Linked DNA regions of Homo sapiens. The protein of the gene in region 1 purifies or fractionates together with the protein of each later gene. This does not show direct contact. Each region holds a gene or a part of one and is shown in the gene's direction. Other genes may lie near its edges. The genes, in order: ZNF490, FARS2, NEMF and TOMM34.

The links.
Region 2: the proteins of ZNF490 (region 1) and FARS2 purify together in Homo sapiens (affinity purification with mass spectrometry; one large-scale study listed by BioGRID and IntAct). This does not show direct contact.
Region 3: the proteins of ZNF490 (region 1) and NEMF purify together in Homo sapiens (affinity purification with mass spectrometry; one large-scale study listed by BioGRID and IntAct). This does not show direct contact.
Region 4: the proteins of ZNF490 (region 1) and TOMM34 purify together in Homo sapiens (affinity purification with mass spectrometry; one large-scale study listed by BioGRID and IntAct). This does not show direct contact.

Annotation. Positions count from the first base shown.
Region 1 is NC_000019.10:12,603,521-12,609,570, reverse strand, and holds part of ZNF490 (zinc finger protein 490), read left to right. Parts: intron 1-368; coding exon 369-413; intron 414-6,050. UniProt on the Homo sapiens protein: May be involved in transcriptional regulation.
Region 2 is NC_000006.12:5,546,789-5,552,838, forward strand, and holds part of FARS2 (phenylalanine--tRNA ligase, mitochondrial), read left to right. Parts: intron 1-6,050. UniProt on the Homo sapiens protein: Is responsible for the charging of tRNA(Phe) with phenylalanine in mitochondrial translation.
Region 3 is NC_000014.9:49,830,854-49,836,903, reverse strand, and holds part of NEMF (ribosome quality control complex subunit NEMF), read left to right. Parts: intron 1-2,454; coding exon 2,455-2,541; intron 2,542-3,407; coding exon 3,408-3,481; intron 3,482-4,626; coding exon 4,627-4,697; intron 4,698-4,777; coding exon 4,778-4,853; intron 4,854-5,542; coding exon 5,543-5,605; intron 5,606-6,050. UniProt on the Homo sapiens protein: Key component of the ribosome quality control complex (RQC), a ribosome-associated complex that mediates the extraction of incompletely synthesized nascent chains from stalled ribosomes as well as their ubiquitin-mediated proteasomal degradation.
Region 4 is NC_000020.11:44,945,742-44,951,791, reverse strand, and holds part of TOMM34 (mitochondrial import receptor subunit TOM34), read left to right. Parts: intron 1-2,914; coding exon 2,915-3,062; intron 3,063-6,050. UniProt on the Homo sapiens protein: Plays a role in the import of cytosolically synthesized preproteins into mitochondria. Binds the mature portion of precursor proteins. Interacts with cellular components, and possesses weak ATPase activity.

The DNA of each region.
Region 1 (6,050 bases):
TCTCAAAAAATTTTTAAAAATTAGCTGGGTATGGTGTTCACCTGTAGTCCTAGCTCCTTCGGAGGCTGAGGCAGAAGGATCTCAAGGCTAAGAGTTTGAGGTTACAGTGAGCCAAGATTGTGCCACTGCATTCCAGCCTGGGAGAGAGAGAGACTGTCTCTAAATTTTTTTTTTAAAGTAGAAACATATTTCATTTTTCCCATTATAGAGGAGACAGTGTAATCTTGAAAACTCCCATGATCCACCCTTCTGGTAGCTCTGTGTGTACAGGTAGATGCAGGGGGAACAATGCTTCCAAGGCTGTCAAAGGTCATGTTTAGTTCTAAATTGCTGAAACTCACAAAATGCATCCTCTTGTTTCTAATTAGATGCAGAACAGTGAACACCATGGACAAAGCATCAAGACTCAAACTGTAAGTGAGATCGCTACCTGTCAGCGTGGCTACCTTCCTTGTTTATAATGACCATTTGGGTCTGTCCTTCTATGACCTCTTTGTGGGGGGGTCTTTCGGGTCTTTGTGAAGGCACTCCCATAGTCAAGGCCAATAACCAGGCTCTCAGGTATGTCCTGTTCATTGCCCTCACCCTGTACTTCCATTGTCCCTTACCTTCATTGGCCATCCCAACACAGCCACCTGCATCCTTTGGAATATCACATTTGGGCTGGGTGCAGTGGCTCATGCCTGTAATCCTGGCACTTTGGGAGACTGAGGTAGGAGGATTGCTTGAGTTCAGGAGTTTGAGACCAGTGTGGGCAATGTAGTGAGACTCTGTCTCTACAAAAAATAAAAAAAATGGCTGGGTGTAGTAGCTCATGCCTGTAATCTCAGCACTTTGGGAGGCAAGGTGGGTGGATCACTTGAGGCCAGGAGTTGGTTTCCAACCTGGCCAACATGCTGAAACCTCATCTCTATTAAAAATATTTTTTAAGTTAGCTGGGCATGGTGGGAGGCACACCTGTAATCTCAGCTACTTGGGTGGCTGAGGCATGAGAATCACTTGAATCTGGGAGGAGGAGGTTGCAGTGAGCTGAGATCGCGCCACTGTACTCCAGCCTGGGCAACAGAGTGAAACTCTGTCTCAAAAATAAATAAATAAATAAATAAATAAATACATAAATAAATAAAGATAAAAAATTAGCTGGGCATGGTGGCATAGTCCCAGGTCCTCGGGAGGCTGAGACGGGAGGATGGCTTCAACCTGAGGCTGCGGTGACCTGTGATGGTGCCACTGCACTCTAGCCTGGGCAACAGAGCGAGACCCTGTCTCAAAAAAACACAAAAACCACAAATTTGGAGTCATGTTTACTTGTTTGCATAGTTTGGACAAAACGATCACTGCAGTTCTGACCTTCAAGGTAAACATGCAAGAGACGGATAAGGCACGGGTTAGTGTCGGGGGTACCTAATTTTGTCATTGCTATCAGTTCCCTGATCTAAGTGACTCTGTAATCCCAACACTTTGGGATGCTGAAGTGGGAGGAATTTCATGGGGAATGACTACAGCCTTCATGCATGTGGATACATAATCTGAGCCTGAATATGTCATCTTCACATAAAACCACGATTTGGTTATTGACTGTTCTGTGAATCCTGGGTTCCTTGGCTCATGGGAGCTTCAATGTGGCTTTTCTGGCCAGGAACTTGCCTGACATTTTCAATAAGCCAATCCTTAAGTTCAGCATGCTGGTATTTTTCAGTGTCTGGGTCACCGTCCTTCCTGTCTACCAAAACCCGAAATGGGGAAGCTATCAATCCTGGCCTCCACTGATTTGCTGCTGCTTCTCTGTCTGCAGATGCTATGCTGTTCTTGTTTGTTCCTTTTTTTTTTTTTTGAGACAGGGATCTTGCTGTGTTGCCCAGGCTGGTCTCAAGCTCCTGGCTTCAAGCAATTCTCCTGCCTCAACCTCCCAAAGTGCAGGGATTACAGGTGTGAGTCACTATGCCTGGCCTGAGTTTTCAGTTTTTGACAGTGCTCAGTATATGTGGTGGCACACATTTGGACTTTAATACTGAGAAGTTCCATTATTATTACTGTTATTATATTGTATTACTATTACTATTATGTTCTGTCACCCAGGCTGGAGTGCAGTGGCAAGATCACAGCTCACTGTAGACTCAACTTCACAGGCTCCCTAGTAGCTGGGACTAGTAGCTGGAACTAGGACTAGGTGTGCGCCACCACGCTTGGCTAATTTTAAAAAAATTCTTTTTTTAGCCAGGTGTGGTTGTGCACATCTGTAATCCCAGCTATTTGGGAGGCTGAGGCAGGAGAATTGCTTGAACCCAGAAGGTGGAGGTTGCAGTGAGCCGAGATCATGCCACTGCACTCTAGCCTGGGTGACAGAGTGAGACTCCACCTCAAAAAAAAAAAAAAATTTAAATTTTTTAAATTTTAGAGACAGGGTCCTGCTATGTTGCCCAGGCTGATCTTGAACTCCTGGACTCAAGTGATCCTCCCACATCAGCCTCCCAGTGTTGGGATGGTAGGCGTGAGCTACCACACCTGGCCAATTTCATTATTACTTATGAGCCATATGAGTTTAGACAAGACTTTGTGCTCTCCATACTTAACTTTTTTCATTTGCAAGATGGGAGGTATGATTGGGTGGGGCTAATCAAATGAAATACTAATGATTATGAAATCACATTAGTCACCACAGTGATGTGCAAACATAAATTATTGAAATATTGAATAAAAATGGGATTTTATTTGTTCTTTAGTAAAACACAAAGCTGTTCATTTTTTTTCTTTCCTAACATGTGCTGGAAATCTACCATATGGAAATGATACTTGTGAATGGTCATGGACTTTTAGGCCTTTGCTGATCATTAAAATAAAAATCTTCCAGTGATTCCTTTTATAAAAGGACATCAAAGCCTGGGCAACAGAGTGAAATCCTGTCTCTATAAAAATAAAAAAAATTGGCCAGGTGCAGTGGCTCACACCTGTAATCCTAGCACTTTGGGAGGCTGAGGTGGGTAAATCACTTGAGGTCAGGAGTTCAAGACCAGCCTGGCCAACATGGCGAAACCGCATCTCTACTAAAATACAAAAAATTAGCGGGGCATGGTGGTGCACACCTGTAGTCCCAGCTACTCAGCAGGCTGAGGCAGAAGAATTGCTTGAACTCAGGAGGCAGAGGTTGCAGTGAGCTGAGATCATGCCACTGCACTCTAGCCTGGGCAACAGATAGAGACCCTGTCTCAAAAAAAAAAAAAAAAAAAGAATTACCCAGGGTGGTGGCATGTGCCTGTAGTCCCATAGCAGAGATCCCTTGAGTCCAAGAGTTGGAGGCTACAATGACCTATGATTGTGCCACTGCACTCCAGCTTGGGCAATAGAGTGAGTCTCTGTCTCTAAAATGAAAAAAAAAAAAAATCCTATTTTAGGCCAGGCGCGGTGGCTCATGCCTGTAATCCCTGCACTTTGGGAGGCCGAGGTGGGTGGATCACCTGAGGTCGGGAGTTTGAGACCAGCCTGACCAACATGGAGAAACCCTGTTTCTACTAAAAATACAAAATTAGCGGGACGTGGTGGCACATGCCTGTAATCCCAGCTACTTGGGAGGCTGAGGCAGGATAATTGCTTGAACCCGGGAGGTGGAGGTTGCGGTGAGCCAAGATCATTGCACGCCAGCCTGGGCAACAAGAGCAAAACTCTGTCTCAAAAAAAAAAATTAAATTAAAAAAAAATCCTATTCGAGGGTCTCAAATACACTTTTCTTAAAGGGATAGGAAAACCATTAACAAAATATTTAACAGAATACTTCACTTCTGGTCCACCAATAACCACTTCTCAAGCAGACACCAGCTGGGTGTGCTATATAATTCAATTTAATTGTGACAGTATCTACCTGGAGACGGAGTCCAATACCAAAAGCTAACGGCTCACAAGAATGCCCCTCACTGCAAATGTCAGTTGTAAGTCCCAGGATGTGACCTATGCTTCTGACCAACAAGCTGTAAATCAGGGTTTTCATGACCCACTCTTTGGGTTTGATTAATTTGCTGTAGCAGCCTACAGAACTCACAGAAACACTTTACTTACATTCACCCATTTATTACAAAGTGTTTTTTTTTTTTTTAATAGAGCAGGGTTTCACTCTGTCTCCCAGGCTGGAGTGCAGTGGCAGGATCATAGCTCATTGCAGCCTTCAACTCTTGGGATCAAGCGATCCTCCCTCATCAGCCCCGCAAGTAGCTAGGAATATAGGCATGTGCCACCACACTCAACTAATTATTTATTTTTTGTAAAGTTAGGGTCTCGCTCTGTTGTCCAGGCTAGTCTCAACCTCCAGGTCTCAAGAGATCCTCCCACCTCGCTCCTCTCAAAGCACTGAGATTATAGGAGTGAGTCACTGTGCCTAGTCTTACAAAGGATATTTTATTATTTATTTATTTGTTTACTCTTTATTTTGAGACAGGGTCTCACTCTGTTGCCAGGCTGGAGTGTAGCAGCACGATCTTGGCTCACTGCAACCTCCATCTCCAGGGTTCAAATGATTCTCGTGTTTCAGCCTCCCGAGTAGCTGGAATGACAGGCATCCTCCACCACGCCCAGCTATTTTTGTATTTTTAGTAGAGAAGGGGTTTCACCATGTTGGCCAGGCTGGTCTCGAACTCCTGACCTCAAGTGATCCATCTGCCTTGGCCTCCCAAAGTGCTGGCATTACAGGTGTGAACCACTGCACCCAGCCTACAAAGGATATTTTATTTTATTTATTATTATTATTATTTTTTTTTTGAGACGGAGTTTTGCTCTTGTCGCCCAGGCTGGAGTGCAATGGCGCGATCTCAGCTCACTGCAACCTCTGCCTCCCAGGTTCAAGCAATTCTCCTGCCTCAGCTTCCCAAGTAGCTGGGATTACAGGCGCCCACCACCACGCCTGGCTAATTTTTTTTTTTTTGAGATAGAGTCTCACTCTTTTGCCCAGGCTGGAGTGCAGTGGCACAATCTTGGCTCACTGCAGCCTCTGCCTACCAGGGTCAAGTGATTCTCCTACCTCAGTCTCTCAAGTAGCTGGATTACAGGCCCATGCCACCATGCCCAGCTAATTTTTTTTCTGTGTGTCTATGTTTTTAGTAGAGGCAGGGTTTCACCATGCTGGCCAGGCTGGTCTCGAACTCCTGACCTCATGATCCGCCCACCTTGTCCTCCCAAAGTGCTGGGATTATAGGTGTGAGCCACTGCACCTGGCCTAATTTTTGTATTTTAAGTAGAGATGGGGTTTCATCATGTTGGTCAAGCTGGTCTTGAACTCCTGACCTCAAGTGATCCACCTGCCTCAGCCTCCCAAAGTGCTGGGATTACAGGCGTGAGCCACCACACCTGGCCCTACAAAGGATATTTTAAATGATACGAATGAACAGCCAGATGAAGAGATACCTCCAGGCATATGGTTATGTTCTTATTTACCAACCAGAAGGCTCTCTGAGCCGTGTTTTTGGGTTTTTATGGTGGCTTTATTATGGTGACATGATTAATCACATCATTCACTATGGGTGATCAACTCAACCTTCAGTTTTCTCTTCCCTCCCTGGAGGTGGGGACAGAGCTGAAAGTTTCAAAGCTCCAGTCACATGGTTGGTTCCCTGGCAACTAGCCTCACATCCTGTGGTTTGTAGGAGCTTTCCAAAAATCACCCCATTAACATAAACTTAGCTGTGGTGGAAAGGGGATGGTTATGAATAACTAAAGACATTTCTTCCACCTGTCACTCTGGAACTCTTCTAGAGCTATTTTAAGAACTGAATACAAAAGGCCATTTTTTTTTTTTTTTGAGATAGGGTCTCCTTCACTCTGTCACCCAGTGACAGTGGCACAATCTTGGCTCAATGCAGCCTCCACCCCCGGGTTCAAGCAATGATCCCACCACAGCCTCCTGAGTAGCTGGGACTACAGGTGCACGCCACCACATCTGGCTATTTTTTTCTATTTTTAGTAGAGATGGGTTTTCGCCATGTTGCCCAGACTGGTCTCAAACACCTGAGCTCAAGCATCCACCTACCTTGGCCTCCCAAAGTACTGGGATTACAGATGTGAGCCCC
Region 2 (6,050 bases), on another chromosome or scaffold:
CATTCCCCAGATAACTGTATTTATCAATTCTAGAATTTGCATTTGCTTCCTTTTTAGAGTTTTCATTTATCTACTGAAATGCTTGATTTTTTCATCCATTTCATCCATTCTTCCTTAAATTCTTTCACATATTCATAATGGTTATTTTATTTTATTTTATTTTATTTTATTTATTTATTTTGAGACGGAGACTTGCTCTGTTCCCCAGGCTGGAGTGCAATGGCATGATCTCAGCTCACTGCAACCTCTGCCTCCTGGATTCAAGCAATTCTCCCACCTCAGCCTCCCGAGTAGCTGGGATTACAGGCATACACTGCCATGCCTGGCTAACTTTTGTATTTTTAGTAGATACAGGGTTTCACCATGTTGGCCAGGCTGGTCTCAAACTCCTGACCTCAGGTGATCTGCCCATCTTGGCCTCCCGAAGTGCTGGGATTACAGGTATGAACCACTGCGCCCGGCCTCATAATGGTTATTTTAAAGTACTTGTCTGTTAATTCCAACCATTTGATTATCTAGTGTTCTTTTGTTGTGGTTGTTTTCCCTTCCTAATCATGGCTTACATATTTCCTGCTGCTTCACTTGTCTTTTTGTTTTTTTTTTAATTGTGTTTGAATGGACAAAGACTGAGGTAGATAAAATTTATCCCCAGAAAGTCTTATGCTTTCTACCTTCTGGCTGCTAAGGTGACTAGGCCAGATCTTTTTGTTCTAATCAGGAGTTGAGTTGAATTTCACATCTGCTTTCCTCTTGATGGTGAGATCTAGCCCTGCAGCAGAGTTTGGGATCTAACCATGTGAGATCACAGGATCTCTTTCTGCTTTCCATCCACTTACCAGCTTCTTCCACCACCAGCGTTTGTAAGCAGAAATATTATGAAGGAGAATTGGCTGGCAGTGAGGGTTAGCTCTGTTTCTCCATTTTCCAATCTGCCATGCCAGCCCATGCTTGGCTGACGCAAGTGTGGCTCATTCTTCTTATTCCAACAAAATGTCTTTGCCAGTAGCAGGCTAGCTCTTCTGCCTACTCACGCCCCAGTGGCGACAGCAGCCATCAGTGTCTGTCTACCCTAGAAGGGCTCATCTCTCTCTGGAGTTATACTTATTTATATTTGTGTACAGACCTTTTCAACTGTATTAGTCCATTTTCATGCTGCTGATAAAGATATACCCCAGACTGGGAAGAAAAAGAGGTTTAATTGGACGTACAGTTCCACATGGCTGGGGAGGCCTCAGAATCATGGCGGTGGGCGAAAGGCACTTCTTACATGGCAGCAGCAAGAGAAAATGATGAAGAAGCAAAATCAGAAACCCCTGATAAACCCATCAGATCTTGTGAGACTTAATCACTATCACGAGAATAGCACAGGAAAGACCGGCCCCTGTGATTCCATTACCTCCACCTGAGTTGCTCCCACAACATGTGGGAATTCTGGGAGATACAATTGAAGTTGAGATTTGGGCGGGGACACAGCCAAACCATATCATCAACTTTAAGGACAGGTATGATTTTTATGAGTGTATTTTGTTATTGTTATAGTGAAGCACACTGATTTTGTGTGTGTGCCCATCTGCATCTTGAACCTTTCTATGTATATATGCATATATTTTTGGTTTTACCTTATGAGGACTTTTAAAAACTTCTACTTGAATAATTATCTGTTTTATTTTAGCATCAATTTCCTTGTAGACTAATTTGAAATAAAGCTGTATCTAATTTACAATAAAACCTGGCTAGGGCTGTAACTTTTTCTCATTCTCTTTTTAATATATTGTCAGTTATTTAATCAGCAAACATTTAAAGAACACCAACATCGTGTAGAATGGTGTGCTCAACACCATGGTGTGACAAATAAAGATGAAAAACACAGTTGCCACCAGAATTAAGTGGCTTAAATTCAATTTTAAGTGTACTTACAACAATCTTTTTTTATGAGACACATAGAAATAGACTCTTGATCTCTTGCACTAAATGTCATTTTTTTTCTCCTTTCTGCCTTCAAATTTGAAAGCCAATATATGCATACCTGCACTAATATATAATTTTTATAGTTGTCTTTGTGTAACAAACTTAAGAACTTCTAACGGGGCAATTAGGATTTGTACATTCATATTTAGTATATGTTCATAAAATACTTTGTGAAGTATAGATTATAGATCATACTATTACCTAAGTATTCACTTATAATTAGTATCTATTCTTGTTAGTTTCCTGTTGCTTAGGTAACCAGTTACCACAAATCTAGTAGCTTAAAACAACATGTATTTATTATTTTACAGTTCTAGAGGTCAGAAAACCAAAATCCACCCAACTGGGCTAAAGTTAAGGTGTCAGCAGGGCTGACTCCTTCTGTAGGCTCTTGGGGGAATCCACCTTCTTGACTTTTCTGGCTTTTTTTTTTTTTTAATTATACTTTAAGTTCTAGGGTACATGTGCACAACGTGCAGGTTTGTTACATATGTATACATGTGCCATGTTGGTTTGCTGCACCCATTAACTCGTCATTTACATTAGGTATTTCTCCTAATGTTATCCCTCCCTCTTCCCCCCACTCCACGACAGACCCTGGTGTGTGATGTTCCCTGCCCTGTGTCCAGGTGTTCTCATGGTTCAGTTCCCACCTATGAGTGAGAACATGCGGTATTTGGTTTTCTGTCCTTGTGAACTGTCACCTTTTCCGGCTTTTAAAGGCCATCCTCAGTCCTTGGATCACAGCCATGCATCATGTTGCCTTTTCTCTCTCCTTCATCTTTTGTCACATTGCCTTCTCTTTGACCTTTGCTTCTTTCTTATAAGGATCCTTATGATTGTATCAAGCCTTGCTGGGTAATTCAGGATAATCTTCCCATCTCAAAATACTTCTCTTAAAGTAATCCTTTAATACTTTAATACAAATTAATTCTCTAATACAAAAGGAAATGTAAATTTCCTGTTGAATATAAGGTAATGTATTTCTAGGTTACAGGGATTAGGACGTAGATATCTTTGGGTAGGGTTGGGGGCATTTTTCAGTCTACCAGAGTCTTCCCTTTGACCCCTAAAGATTCACATCTGTCTTTTGTAAAATACATTCAGCCTATCCCAAGGTCCCACAAACTCTGAACCCATTGCAAAATCAACTCAAAATCCAAAATGTCATCTAAATATCATCAGCCCCTAAGTCCCATTTCATCATTTAATTATCTAAAGCTGGTTTATGTGACACTCTGGGTATGATTCATCCTGGGGCAAAATTCCTCCCCACTTTTGCACCTGAAGCGAGGTACCTACTCCCAAAATACAATGAGTAGGATAGGCATTGGAGAATAGTTGTAGACATTTCCATTCAAAAAGGGAGAAAATGAAAGGAGAAGAAAAAGAATCACTGGTTCCAAGCTATTTCAAAATTCAGCCATTAGGTTTCAAGGCCTGGGGATAATTCTCTGTGGCCCTTGGCTTCACCCATTTGACCTGTATTTCTACCCTCTAAAATATCCTTCTTTTTTAAAGTTCTTTTATTTATTTATGAGGCCAGGTCTTGCTCTTTCATCAGGCTGGAGCCCAGTGGTGCCATCACGGCTCACTGCAACCTCCACCTCCCAGGCTTACATCTCAGCCTCCCGAGTAGCTGGTACTACAAGCACATGGTACCACGCCCAGCCAATTTTTTGTGTTTTTAGTAGAGAAGGTGTCTTGCCATGTTGCCCAGGCTGTTCTTCAACTCCTGGGCTCAAGCAGTCTGCCTGCCTTGGCCTCCCACAGTGTCAGGGTTACAGGCATGATGAGCCACTGTGCCTTACCTCCTTTTTTGTTAAGGGTGGCATGTATATGCAGGTGAGTTGTTTTATTACCCTGGCTTTTGCCTGAAGAATTTGGGGAGTCAAATAGCCTTCTTTCTTTCCTTCTCTTTTTGTTCTTTTGTCCCTCTCAATTCCAGCTGACAGTGTTCCTGATGGTAAATCATTCTCAAAAACCTTGTGGCTCTCCCATTTATATCATAGGGATTCATTCCATTACACAAGAGGCTCCTCTGCAGATCTTTCTTGAATAATTCATTGCTATTTCTGGCTTCTGCTGAGACGCCTGAGGGGATCCTTGACTCATATGCTTAATTTCTTCAAAGAGCCCTCTGTTTGACTAAATACCCTGATCCTTCAAAACTTCTGAGGCATTAACAAAGGGTTGTATAGCTGCACTCATGGCTTTCTCTCCAAAGCACTTTTCTTTCAGCAAAACCCCTAACTTTTTGTCTTTTTCAGTATAGATAGGCTAAGAATTTCCCAAATTATCTAATCTTGCTCCTCTTTGCATAGCAGTTCTCTTAATTTGTCTGTTTTCTCCTGCAAGAATAAAGCAGGCTGCATTTTCACTGTTTGCTTGGAAATTTCCTCAGCTAAATATCCAAGTTCATTGTTTACAAGTTTTGCTTTCCACTTCCAATTCATCTAATTCTGCCGCTATGAATGAACAAGGATCCCCTTTCCTCCACCTTCCACTAACATGTTCCTCATTTCCTTGCGAGCCCTCACCAGCAGGGCTTTTGACATCTGTATTGCTACCACCAGTATGTTTATGAATATTTGGATATTCTCAGACAGTATAGGTTTTCTCTACCATGCTCCTCACTTTTTCCTTGCCTGTCACAGTCTATAACATCCATATTTCTACAAGAGTCTCTTTAAGGCAAAATAGCCATTTAATATCATGGTGCTCCAAGTTATCTACTACCCACTGACCAATTCCAAGGCTAATTCCACATTTTTATGTATTTGTTACAAGCAATACCTCACTTCCAGATACAAAAATACGTATTAGTTTCTTGTTGCTGCTATAATAAATTACCACAAACTTAGAAGCTTAAAACAACATGAGCTTATTATCTTATATTTTTGGAGGACAGAAATCCAGAATCAGCCTGATTGGCCTAAAGTAAAGGTGTCAGCAGGGCTGGTTCCTTCTGGAGGCTCTGGGGGAGAATCTGTTCCCTTGCCTTTGCCCGTCTAGAGACAGTCCTCAGTTCTTAGCTTATGACAGCATCACGTTGCCTTCCCCCAAGCCCTGCCACTTCCCTCTGTAAACACCTCACCCTCTCTCTGAATTTTTGCCTCCCTCTTCGAAGGACTCTTCTGATTACATGGAACCCACCAGGATATTCAGGATAATCACCTCATCTGAACATCCTTCCTTAATTATATCTATAAAGATCTTAATGTAGGATAACGTATTCTCAGGTTCCAGGGAGTAAGAGATGGATATCTGTGGAAGGGGGCTATTATTTAGCCTATCACTTGTGCCATTTTATATCCTATTTCGTCATGACAGATTGCTTGCCTTCAGATATAATAGAGTGGTTTGTCTTTAGGGATAAAAAATAAGGATAGTATTAAAGTGTTAGCCATTTTTAACTATTTATGTAGAGTAGTCATATTTACATATATAAGAGGGGACTGTGTTGACAGAAAACTTGTTTTATTACTACAGTTGACCTGCCTTGAGAAAAATACTTAAAATGATTGTAATTCTCTGCAATCTCAGAGGTGGGGCGAGAAAATGGGGAAAAGGCCTGCTGGCAGCTATGAACTTGTGGATCCCCTGGCCAGGAAACTCTGGAAGCCATTTGGGAATCCTATTGTGCAAGAAGCAGAAATTTCTCTTCCTTGGTCTCCTTTTAGGCCCTCCTAAGTGATGCTCTAGGCTGTGTTGGCTTCTGTGGTGTCTTTCTCTGTGCGGCCTCCACATCCTGTCCTGTACATTTTTCTGTCCAGCTGTGGGGCACTCTCCTGGGTGCTAGCAACAGTCTCTGATTGATGGGACCCTGAGTCCTCACCTGTGTGACTCTTTTCCTGCATACCTTGAAACCCATTGTTTAAATCTAGTCGGTAAGAAACTCAAGTTAAAATGTGATTTTAATTTTTGATTTTCATTTTACATATTTTGAATTAAGTGCTTTGCCTACCACGGCTTTCTTTAACCAACCTGGATCTGTGCTTGAGATAAGTGGGTCAACAATATGGTTGGTCTGTTATGCAAGTGATAACTTGTTCTGTCCACCACTGCAGCTTCCCATGCTG
Region 3 (6,050 bases), on another chromosome or scaffold:
AAATATTGTATAAAATCACCTCCAGGCTATATTGCGTAAAGTCATAAATGAATTTTGTGTTTAGATTTGGGTTCCATCCCCAAGGTATCTCATTATGTATATGCAGATATTCCAAAATGTGAAAAAATCTGAAATCTCAAACACTTCTATCCCAACACATCACATAAGGGATACTCAACTTACATGTCCTCTTAACTGTTCACTTTTTTTTTTTCAAAAGAGTTTTGGCATTTGGCATTTCAAAAGATCTTCTGCATTTCCCAAGGGTCTCGCTCTGTTGCCCAGGCTGAAGTGCGGTGCCACGAACACTGCTCACTGCAGCTTCCACCTCCCAGGTTCAGGCCATCTCCTGCCTCAGCCCCACAAGTAGCTGGGACTACAGGGATGAACTCCTGGCTAATTTTTCTATTTTTTGGTAGAGACAGGGTTTTACCATGTTGTCCAGGTTGGTCTCGAACTCCTGAACTCAAGCAGTCTGCCCGCCTCAGCCTCCCAAAGTGCTGGGATTACAGGCGTGAGCAACTGCGCTCGGCCAGCATTTCCTTATAAAATTTAGAGTTGACTTGTTACTTTCTATGAAAAAAGCCTCATAGGATTTTGATAAGGATTACATTATTACTATTATTTGAGACAATCTCATTCTGTTGCCCAGGCTGGAGTGCAGTGGCATGATCTCGGCTCACTGCAACCTCCATTTCCTGGGTTCAAGTGATTGTCTTGCCTCAGCCTCCCACGTAGCTGGGATTACAAGTGTATGCCACTACACCCACTAAGTTTTGTGTTTTTAGTAGAGATGGGGTTTCACCTTCTTGGCCAGGCTGGTCTCAATTACAGCTGTGAGCCACTGCCTGGCCTGGTAAGGATTACATTAAGTCTGTGGATCAGTTTGGGGAGAATTGCCGTTTTAACTACATTGAGTCTTCTATGAAGAGAGAATGTCTGACTATTTATTTAGATCTTTAATTTCTCTCAGTTAGATTTATTCCTAAACATTCTATTCTTTTTGATGCTATTGTCAGTGGAATTTTCTTAATTTCATTTTTGCATAGAAATACAATTGATTTCTATATATTGGTTTTTGTATCCTGCAAACCTGATAAACTTGTTTATTCATTCTAGTAGGGTTTTTTTGTGGGTTCCTTAGGATTTTTTAAGGTACAGGATCATGTCATCTGTGAATAAGGATGCTTTACTTCTTCCTTTAGAATCTGAATGCTATTAATTAATTTGCCTTATTGTGCTAGCTATAGCTTCCAGTACAATGTTGAATAGCAGTGTGAGACTGAATATTCTTTCCTTGTTCCTGATCTTAGGGGGATAATATTCAGTCCTTCACCAGTAATTATCATGTTAGCTGTAGGTTTTTCATAGGTGTCCTTATAAGGTTGAGAATGCTCCCTCTATTCCTAGTTTATTGAGAGTTTTTATTAGGAATTAGTGTTGAATTTTGTCAAATGCTTTTTCTGCATCTATTGAAATGATATATGGCTCTTTTCCTTTATTTTATCAATATGGAGTATTATATTAACCAATTTTTGGTTGCCAAACCAACCTTGCATTCCAGGGATAAATCCTCATTGTGGTTGAAGCCCATTAAATTCCTATAACTTGCACTGACTTTTGTAAGTTAATTGTAGTTTCAAATTTCTTTAAGGACTAGAATTGTCATTTTTTTTTTTTTTTTTGGTTGCGGGGTGGGGCGGGGGACGGAGTTTCACTCTTGTTGCCCAGGCTGCAGTGCAATGGCACGATCTTGGCTCGCCACAGCCTCCGCCTCCCGGGTTCAAGTGATTCTCCTGCCTCAGCCTCCTGAGTAGCTGGGATTACAGGCATGTGCCACCACGCCTGGCTAATTTATTGTATTCTTAGTAGAGATGGGGTTTCTCCATGTTGGTCAGGCTGGTCTCCAACTCCCGACCTCAGGTGATCTGCCTGCCTTGGCCTCCCAAAGTGCCGGGATTATAGGCATGAGCCACCGCACCCAGTCTAAGAACTAGAATTGTCATTTCTAAGTAACACTTCAAAATAAGTAAACTTATTGTTTTCACCAGCCACTGTTATTGAGTAGATCATTGATATTGGGAAATAAATTTGTGCTATATTTTGAATGTTAAATTTTAGGCTAGGTCATGGTGGCCCACACCTGTAATCTGAGCACTTTTGGAGGTTGAGGTGAGTGGATCACCTGAGGTTAGGAGTTCGAGACCAGCCTGGACAACATGGTGAAACCTTGTCCCTACTAAAAATACAAAAATTAGCTGGGCATGGTGGTGGGTGCTTGTGATCCCAGCTACTCAGGAGGCTGAGGCAGGAGGTGGGAGGCAGAGGTTGCAGTGAGCCAAGATTGCACCATTGCACTCCGGCCTGGGCGACGGGTAAAACTCCATCTCAAAAAACAAAAACAAAAAAGAATTTATAGGAAAATACTAAAAGTAATATCCTCTGCATTTATAGCCTATGGACCAGCTCTCATTGAACACTGTCTTTTAGAAAATGGATTCTCGGGTAATGTCAAAGTGGATGAAAAACTTGAAACTAAAGGTATGTCTGCATGGTACATTTTTCATTTATTTCATTTTTTTTAAACTATGAAAATTTTTTCTGGGAAAGTAATAAGGGAGCAGGTGGTTCTAGAATGAAAAACATTTGACCAGGCACACTGGCTCATGCCTGCAATCCCAGCACTTTGGGAGGCTAAGGTGGGAGGATCACTTAAGCCTGGGTGTTTGAGGCTGCAGTGGGTGGTGACTGCACAGCTGCACTCCAGCCTGAGCAACAGAGTGAGACCCCCATCTCAAAAAACCCCACAAAAACAAGTATCACCACTCTCAAAAAAAAAAATTGAATGAGATTTTAGTGAATGTTTTAGTTTCTGCAATATACTAAATCAGTGCACTCATAAAATGACAACAGGTGCTGGTGGTGGTGTTTTGTTTTTGTTTGTTTTTATAAAATGACTCTGATGTTTATATGGAGCAAAAGCATGTGAAAATGTTCAGGATAACTCTGGAAAATACTAGTAATGATTTATTACTGTCTGTGTAACCCTTCACAGATTAAAATATGAAGCTATAGTAATTAAAACTGTAAGTTTTTGGAGAAGGAATAGCATAAAGATTCCAAAAATAATTTGAAATAATATGGGAATTTAGTTTATGAACAAAGTTCCTTTCAGGTCATGGAGGGAAAGGTGGATGATTCAATAAAAGCTACTTGGACAACAGGCTGTTCAAAATGAAACCATATATCCACATATACTGGTTATAAACATGAAATCACTATCTCTAATTTTCTTGAACGCAACATTATTTTGTAAGCACTTTCCTGTTTTTCTACATAGTTGTTTAGCCACGGTTAATTGACACTTGATTGGCACTCCTTTTTTCCTTTTTTTCCCCCACCATTAGATATTGAAAAAGTACTTGTTTCTCTGCAGAAAGCAGAAGACTATATGAAAACAACATCCAACTTCAGTGGGAAGGTAGCACCATGTATACTTACTATATATTGTTGTGATTTATTTGGGTTTTCAGAAATTAAACGTTCATTAAAGGATCATTATATATACATTTTATTTTAATTTGGAAAATTGTTATCTGTAATATGCTTATTCCAGGATAGTTTTTTTGTTTTGTTTTTTGAGACAGTCTTGCTCTGTTACCCAGGCTGGAGTGCAGTGGCATGATCTTGGCTCATTGCAACCTCTGCTTCCCTGGTTGAAGTGATTCTCCTGTCTCAGCCTCCCGAGTAGCTGGGACTACAGGCACGTGCCACCATGCCTGGACAGTTTTTATATTTTCAGTAGAGATGAGGTTTCACCGTGTTGGCCAGGCTGGTCTCGAACTCCTGACCTCAAGTGATCCGCCTGCCTTGGCCTCCCAAAGTGCTGGGATTATAGACATGGGCCACTGCACCCGGCCCAGGATAGTGTTTTAAAAGTTTTTGTTGGTTTATAAGTTTTTTTCTGTTCCCTATCTTTTATAGAAAGTACAATGTCAGGTTAGTATCGGCTCTTCAGAAAAGTTGAGGAATTTACAGTTATTTCTTTAGTTTCAGATAGAGAAGCACATTTTCATTTGTCAGCCCTTTTCAAAAATGTTGTGATTTACAGCTCCCAACCATTAAATATTTTTTGAATTACCTAGTAGCTTATGAGTGTTTTTCTTCCCTTTTCAAAGCATAACTATTTATAGAAAATTAAAATTAATATCAGTCATAGAAAGTAAACCTTTGGATTAGGTGCAAATTAATATCAGTCACAGAAACTAAATTTTTAGGTGCAGTGGCTCACACCTGTGATCTCAGCACTTTTGGAGGCCAAGGTGGGCGGATCACTTGAGACCAAGAGTTCGACACCACCCTGGCCATCATGGCAAAACCCCTGTCTCTACTAAAAATACAAAAATTAGCCAGGTATGGTGGCACACACCTGTAATCCCAGCTACTTGGGAGGCTGAGGCATGAGAATTGCTTGAACCCGGGAGGCAGAGGTTGCAGTGAGCCGAGAATATACCACTGCACTCCAGCCTGGGTGATGGAGCGAGCGCGACTGTATCAAAAAAAAAAAAAAGAAGTAAATCTTTGTTAATTATGAATAGGAATGATTTTAATGTTGCATTTTTGTAGGGATATATCATTCAGAAAAGAGAAATAAAACCAAGCTTGGAAGCAGATAAACCAGTTGAAGACATACTGACGTAAGCATATAGGCATGGGTCAATTTGCTTTGGATGTTTGTTAATGTTCTCGAATGTGATATAATAAATATGTTTTACAGGTATGAGGAATTTCATCCTTTCTTGTTTTCTCAACATTCACAATGTCCATATATAGAATTTGAATCATTTGACAAGGTGGGTTTTCCGTTCTGTTCCTTTACCAGTTAGTTAGCATGATATGAGCTGTTGATATCAACTTGCTTCTATTGAGAAACTGAAACTATACTTGCTTTACATTCACTGTGAATCTGGGCATTAAAGATCAGTGTCGTCACAGATACAGCTGTTGGAAATAATTGTTGCCACTTTATTTCAGGATGAAGGACCAGAGGTTTGAACTTCATTTGATTCTTGATACTGTTTAGCCATATAATACATTTACCGGAAATCTGTTCAAGTTCTTTGAGTGGTGTTATGAAACACAATGGAATCTAAAATTCTGTGTATGCAGCTGGGCTTGCTGGCTCATGCCTATAATCTCAGCATTTTGGGAGGCCAAGGCAGGCAGATCAGTTGAGGTCAGGAGTTCAAGACCAGTCTGGCCAACACAGTGAAACCCTGTCTCTGAAAAACTACAAAAATTAGCGGTGTGTGGTGGGGTGCACCTGTAGTCCCAGCTGTTTGAGAGGCTGAGGCAGGAGAATCACTTGAACCTCGGAGGTGGAAGTTGCAGTGAGCCTAGATCGCGCCACTGCAGTCCCGCCTGGGCAACAGAGTGAGACTCTGTCTCAAAAAAAAAGAAAAAAAAAATAAAATTCTGTGTATGCAAGTTGAAGTAGAGACTGTGCTTTTTTTTCCAACTAGTTGTTTGTTTTTTTAATAAGGCGGTGGATGAATTTTATTCCAAGATAGAAGGCCAGAAAATTGACTTAAAAGCTTTACAACAGGTATGTATTATTAAAAACACATATTAAACCAGCTAGTCTTTAGCGGCTTGATGGGTAGATGATATAGGAAAGGGTAGCCTTTCAGAAAGAGTGTAAGAAGTAGTATGGGAACTCTCTGACCTGCCTCTTTATTTATGATAAAGGTTTATGAAGAAGGTCCATGGGGGATTTTATTGTTGAAAAGTATGTCCTCATTTGTTTCATGAGTATTTCAGATATTCTGTAAAAAAAGGAAAATACGGTGGGAACGTGAGGCCTGTTATTTACACCTTAATGTGGTTTGCTCAGAACAACCCAAAGCTTCTCAAACATTGCTGTTAAGGAGATACTGTTTTAGGGAGATTTTAAATAGGCCAGAGGAGGGGATATTGTTTATCATTAAACTGTTTCTTTTTTAAATGGACTTTAAAGCCAAGTCTTAATATGTTTTCTGTGTATCATGACT
Region 4 (6,050 bases), on another chromosome or scaffold:
TATCCATTTTCTTTAGAGTAGTCCTGCAAAAATTGGCATTGTTTAGCTGAGTTATAAAAATAATCTTAGGAACAAAGTATAAAACAAAATACAAGTCTTCACCTCTTAGAGACTGTTTTCTCAGCTGTATAGTGAGGGTGATGATAAAGTCTTCCTCACAACCATGAGGACTGAATGACATAAGACATGTAAAACTCCCAGCCTGGCACATAGGCATGCAGTGTGAGTTCCCTTCTCTTTCCTCTGGTAGCACTTGGGATGTAGTACTTAGGATGTTTTTGGTTGCAAAAACAGAAAGCTCAACATGGTAAACATAGTATAGGGAATTTATTGGCTCATAAAACTGAAAAATCCGAGAGAATTCAGGCAAGGTTTGCTCCAGCAGCTCAGTATATTAACAGACTAACTCCATTTTTCTGTACTTATCACAGCTTTATTTTCTGTTGTGCGTCAGCTTTGTCTTTGGCAAGCTTCCCTCCTAGTAGCAAAATAGCTATAGCAGTTCCCGGCCTCACATCCATACCCCATGCCTCATGACCCAGAGAAAGAAAGTCTTTCTCTGATAGCTCACTAGGAAAAGATAGGATTTTTTTCCCCCAAAAAACTCTAGCTCACATATTTTCTCAATCATTTTCTCAATCTATTCTGGTCTTCATGGTCACAGGCCATTCCCTGAAGTACACACCATAACCGGCGGATGAGATTTTGTGATTAGGTCACCCTGAGGCACCTGCCCCACCTCCAGAACTAGAGGGTGATGCTTCCCAGGAGCATGTACACTGTGTGAATCCCTGGAGAAGCATGAAGAAGAGAAAGGAGATCCAAGCAGCCAAAAACAGGAGATTCCTCACCTCAACTGTATGAAATGAAGAGGCCATTTGTCAGGCACTAGGAAGCTCTTTTAATGCTCCAGGGGAATGGTCCCAGCCCAGCAAGCTAGGGATTCAGGCTAGAGGTGCAGAAGGGATCAGAGATGGAGCCCTGCCATGTGTAAGTGACCTATAGGTGTTAGGGGAGGACAAGAGTTACTCACCTTCTACAGGAGAATGCCTCTCTGGTCATGGGTAGCATTCACTCTGGTTTGTGGGAGCCTGGTAAGTGTTCCCCACTCTTCTCTAGGATGAAAATGTGCGGTGCTAATGAACCTGATGGCATCAGTGCCATTGATTTCATTCTTTCAATCAGTGCACCTACCATTGATTTCATTCTTTAAATCAGTGCACCTACCATTGATTTCATTCTTTCAGGGTCACTGAGCCATGTGTTCCAAGCCATGTGTATGCTAAGCAGTGTGACACAGAGGACAGTCTTGGCCCTCAGGGAACTCTCCCTCAGTTGAGGGACTGAGACATGTAAACAGTGTCTTAAAACACAAGGAGGAGGAACATGTGCTTTAGAGTCTTAGTGTTTGAGGACTTCAGGATAGAAACTGACTTAAGTGCATGAGGGAGTCGGGGAAAGACTCAGAAGGGGTGGCAATGGAGGTGGAGCCTTGAGCTGGACCTTGAAGAAGGTCATCAGGTGGGAAGGAAGGAGAATCCTTGGCAGAGACAGTGGAGAGAGTTGGAGAATGAAAGTGCATGGGGGGAACAGTAGGAATAAGGATGACTGCAGAGTGGTGTGTTGCAGGGTGCCAGTGAAGCTGAAGCCCTACTTCAAGAGAAACCTGTGTGCATGTGCACAGGGAGATGTACCCACAAATGTTCGTAGAAGACTGTAATAGCAAAAAACAACTGGAGATAACCCAGATCTCCATAAATGGGAGAATGGACAATTCAGCTTTGGTATTGCAGCAATGAAAATGAAGGAGCTGCAGGTCTGTGCATCAACACAGATGAATCTCAGAAATATAACATTAAGGGGAAAAAGAAAAACCAAGTCATAAAAGAATACACAGACTTATTCTTCTGTATGAAGTTCAAAAACAAAGTAAACAGCAAATGATCTGTGGGTACTGTTGTATATAGTTATACTGTTTAAAAAGGTGGGGAAGAAGCACAGAATTGGGGATAATAGTTTCCTCCAGCAGTGGATTGAATTGAGGAAGGTCCCCCAGGACTTCAAAGGTCCTAGTTATGTTCTTTTTCTTAAACCAGGCAATGAATTCAGGGTGTAAACCTATAATCTTACCCTGGTCATAAATATTTAGTATTTTATAAAGATAGTTTTAAAAATTTTTGAAAAGCAGATGATATGGAGCTGAGGCTGGAATAATTAATTGGGGCCAAGCAGTGAAGGGCCTGAACACCAAGTTGAGCAGCTTGGATTTCACCATGTTCCCTCTGCTTCCTCTCCTTGAAGGCTGGAGCAGAGCTGCATGTGTTAGATGAGGGAGGATACTCACAGGCTCAGCCCAAACCAGAAATGAGGAATAGCAGGCTCTTCTCCCCTTTTCTCATAGCCCAGAAGCTATACCTTTTCTTTACCAGATATTTGTTTATTAGTATTTATTTACTTATTGTCCTGCTTTAAGTTTATAGTGTGTTCCGTACTTTCTTACATACTCTCAGATTTGACCCTGAAAATAGCCATCTGTGGAATTAGTATTGCCCTATTTTATTGGTGAGGAAATTGAGGTCCAAAAGTTAGGTAGGTCACACAAGATCTTCCAGCTACCAAGAGGCAGTGCCAAGGCTAGAACCTGGGTTGCTTTTTATCATTTATATATTTTTATGTGCATGCAAAAATGTTTTTATATCAGGATTCCCCAACTTCTTGATGAAAAACTGTTGAATTGCCCAGAAGCTATTAATTGGGGGAAGTCATTAATCAGGAAGGATGATTTACAGCAGGGGAGGAAATCTCTGGGAGAGAGGATTGTAGTCAGTTTGGAAGGGACGATGCTGAAGAGACCTCACTGATCTCAGTTGGGTGCTGCTCCATGGTTTTTTTCCTCTTCTGAATTTGTATCTAGTGCCTTCTGCTGGGGATGTGGAGAAAGCCAGAGTTCTGAAGGAAGAAGGCAATGAGCTTGTAAAGAAGGGAAACCATAAGAAAGCTATTGAGAAGTACAGTGAAAGCCTCTTGTGTAGTAACCTGGAATCTGCCACGTACAGCAACAGGTATCTCCTATACAGCTGCTGGCCTGGGGCATTTCAGGACATTTGTTCCATAGTCTTCTCTTGGACTGCAATGGGCCCTTCATCCCTAGCATTTAGTCAAGTATGTTATGGCTGAAAACATGCATCCACGTTGTGAGCTAGCCATGACCAGTGGCATTCATTCTCTCAAAAGGGTAGAAACTGAGGGATGCCAAATGGTAGCCTGGGCTTTGTTGGCCCCTGTCCCCAGAATTTTCATAAGCATGCAATGTAACTAAAAGCAGTGTGCCTGCTCTGCAAACACAACCCTAACACAAGTCTCTTAGCCTGTCCACCCCACCACGCTACGCTGCTCCCTACCCTTCTCCAAGACCCTCCTGTTAGAAATTCTGGCACCATTTCTGTCTGAGAGTACTGGCCCAGAAGCCAAAATGTGAAGTAACCATTGCCTGGCATGAGAGCAGGAAGGATGGGTACAGTCTAGCCTGAAAGGTTAGACTTGTGGGCCTGTAGAAAGTCCTGCACCAGGAGCTGCCGTCAGTGACCACTGACTGAGAACCTGGGAGCCAGGGTGCGGTCCCTTCACTGTGTAGGAGTGATTGTTCTCCAACAATGCTCGTATAGGTGGTCTTTCTGTTTTAGTGTTTAGAAAATTGAGGCTCAGAGAAGGAAGGGTTTTGCTTTAAACTCAGCCAGCCAGTAAATGTTGGCACAAGAATTGGAATCTGACTTCAACAAGATCTTCCTGTTACTTTTACTCTCAGAAGCTTGAAACATTCAGCAAGAGACCATATCAAAACCAAATGCTTAGTATAAAACATTATAAAATGTTAGAAATCTGTTTATCCTTCCCTACCAGCATACACATATCACTCTCTAGTTCAAAAATCTTGGATCTAATATAGACACATTGTTCCTTATTCCAAACTCTTGAGATAAAATGTGTTTTCCAGCCACGGTGGCTCAATGCCTGTAATCCCAACACTTTGGGAGGCTGAGGCTCCGGGAGGATCACTTGAGGTCAGGAGTTTGAGACCAGCCTGGCCAACACGGCAAAACCCCATCTCTACTAAAAATACAAAAAATCAGCTGGGCGCTGTGGCACATGCCTGTGATCTCAGCTACTCAGGAGGCTGAGGCAGGAGAATCACTTGAACCCAGGAGGCAGAGGTTACAGTGAGCCAAGATTGTGCCACTGCACTCCAGCCTGGGTGACAGAGCGAGACTCTGTCACAAAAAAAAAAGAAGTGTTTTCCATTTTAGTGAGGTAATATGGTCTGAATTATGTAACACCCCAGCAGTGTCTGGGGCAGCTTGCAGAAGTTAATTATTAGTATTTCTGCCAGTGAAACTTGAAAATTCCATGTTCACATGGGGTGGAATAGAGAAACTAAATAGCTTCATGTCAGTTCAGATCAGGTTTTGCTGCCCAATGAGTTGGAAAGAGAACTTGTAGTTTTAAAGCTTATATTTTGGAATTTTGCACCTGTGGTTTTATGTGGTTTTATTGCTGATTGGACCAGAGGGGCCACAATTTGCCAGGCTAATTTGAAAAAGAAGCCTGCAGCCTATTTGTTCCATATTTGTGTGGCATCTTCTAACTCCTCTATCTCTGGACCCTCTTTCACATTGCTTACCTTATGCTGCTGGACACCTCCATTAACTCATTTTTCTGGATCATTACCATATTTGGAGCTGTGTTTTGTCTTGTTTAGATACTGTTCTTCATGCAGGTGTCTGTGCCACACTGTTTTAATTGCTTTTGCTTTATAATATCTTATAGGGCTGGTCTTTTCTTCATTCTTCTTAATCAGAGCATTCCTAGTATTTTCCCATGTTTGTTCTTCTAGCTAAAGCTTCGGATCATTTTGGCAAATTCCAAAAAATGTCTTGTTGGACAGCTTTTGGTTGTGATTGCATTGGATTTATAATTTAATCTAGAGGACTAATGACAAAACAACTTTCAGCCATTGTGGCTAACATTTTATCATGTCCTGGAACGTCTTGGACATAGTCTAATGCTCCACCTCATGTACGCCCATCTGAATGACACAATGCCCAGGCTTTGGCTTACTTTGGCTCCCTTTGTGCAGGTGACATCTGAGTGCATAGCACCTACAACTTGCCAGCCCTGAAACAGCTGTCATAAGAATCTCACTTGTACTCACAACAGTTCTTCAGCTTAGATCATTGTCCTGTGTTACCTAATCAGGCTCAGAAAGATGAATTAGTGACCACAAAGTTAAACAACTAGTACATGGTGGCTGAGATTTAAGCCAGATCTTTGTGACTCCAAAGCTTATTTCCCTTTCACTCACTTGTGTTATTTCCCAACCCCTTTGTAATTAAAACCCTTCTGACTGGATACAGTTACTTCATTTACCAAAAGTCAAGGGGGTTTATTTTATTGCCTGAAGTTATGCATTTTGTTCATCTTAAATATAGTCTTTAGAAGTCTCACATGACCCTATTAATCACATTTCTATTCTGAAGTCACGATACACGGTGGTTCCTCTGCTTCCCAGACACTTGGCTATTTCTTTAAATTGCCAAGCCCATTGGGAGGAAACTTTAATTTCCTTAGAATTCCTCTATGTTTAGAGGTGGCTCATGCCTGTAATCCCAGCACTTTGGGAGGCTGAGGTGGGCAGATTGCTTGAGGTTAGGAGTTTGAGACCAGGCTGGCCAACATGGTGAAACCCCATCTCTACCAAAAAATACAAAAGTTAGCTGGGCATGGTGGCATGCACCTGTAATCCCAGCTACTCGGGAGGCTGAAGTAGGAGAATCGCTTGAACCCAGGAGGCGGAGGTTGCAGTGAGCTGTTATCATGCCACTGCACTCCAGCCTGGGTGACAGAGTGAGACCCTGTCTCCAAAAAAAAAAAGGAATTCTTCTGTGTTCAAAGTTTAAAACGGGCTACTATTCTAAAACTTGGTGATTTACAACAACCATTTTATTTTGCTTGTAATTTGTGGAGTCAGGAATTAGGGAAGGGCAGTTCTCATT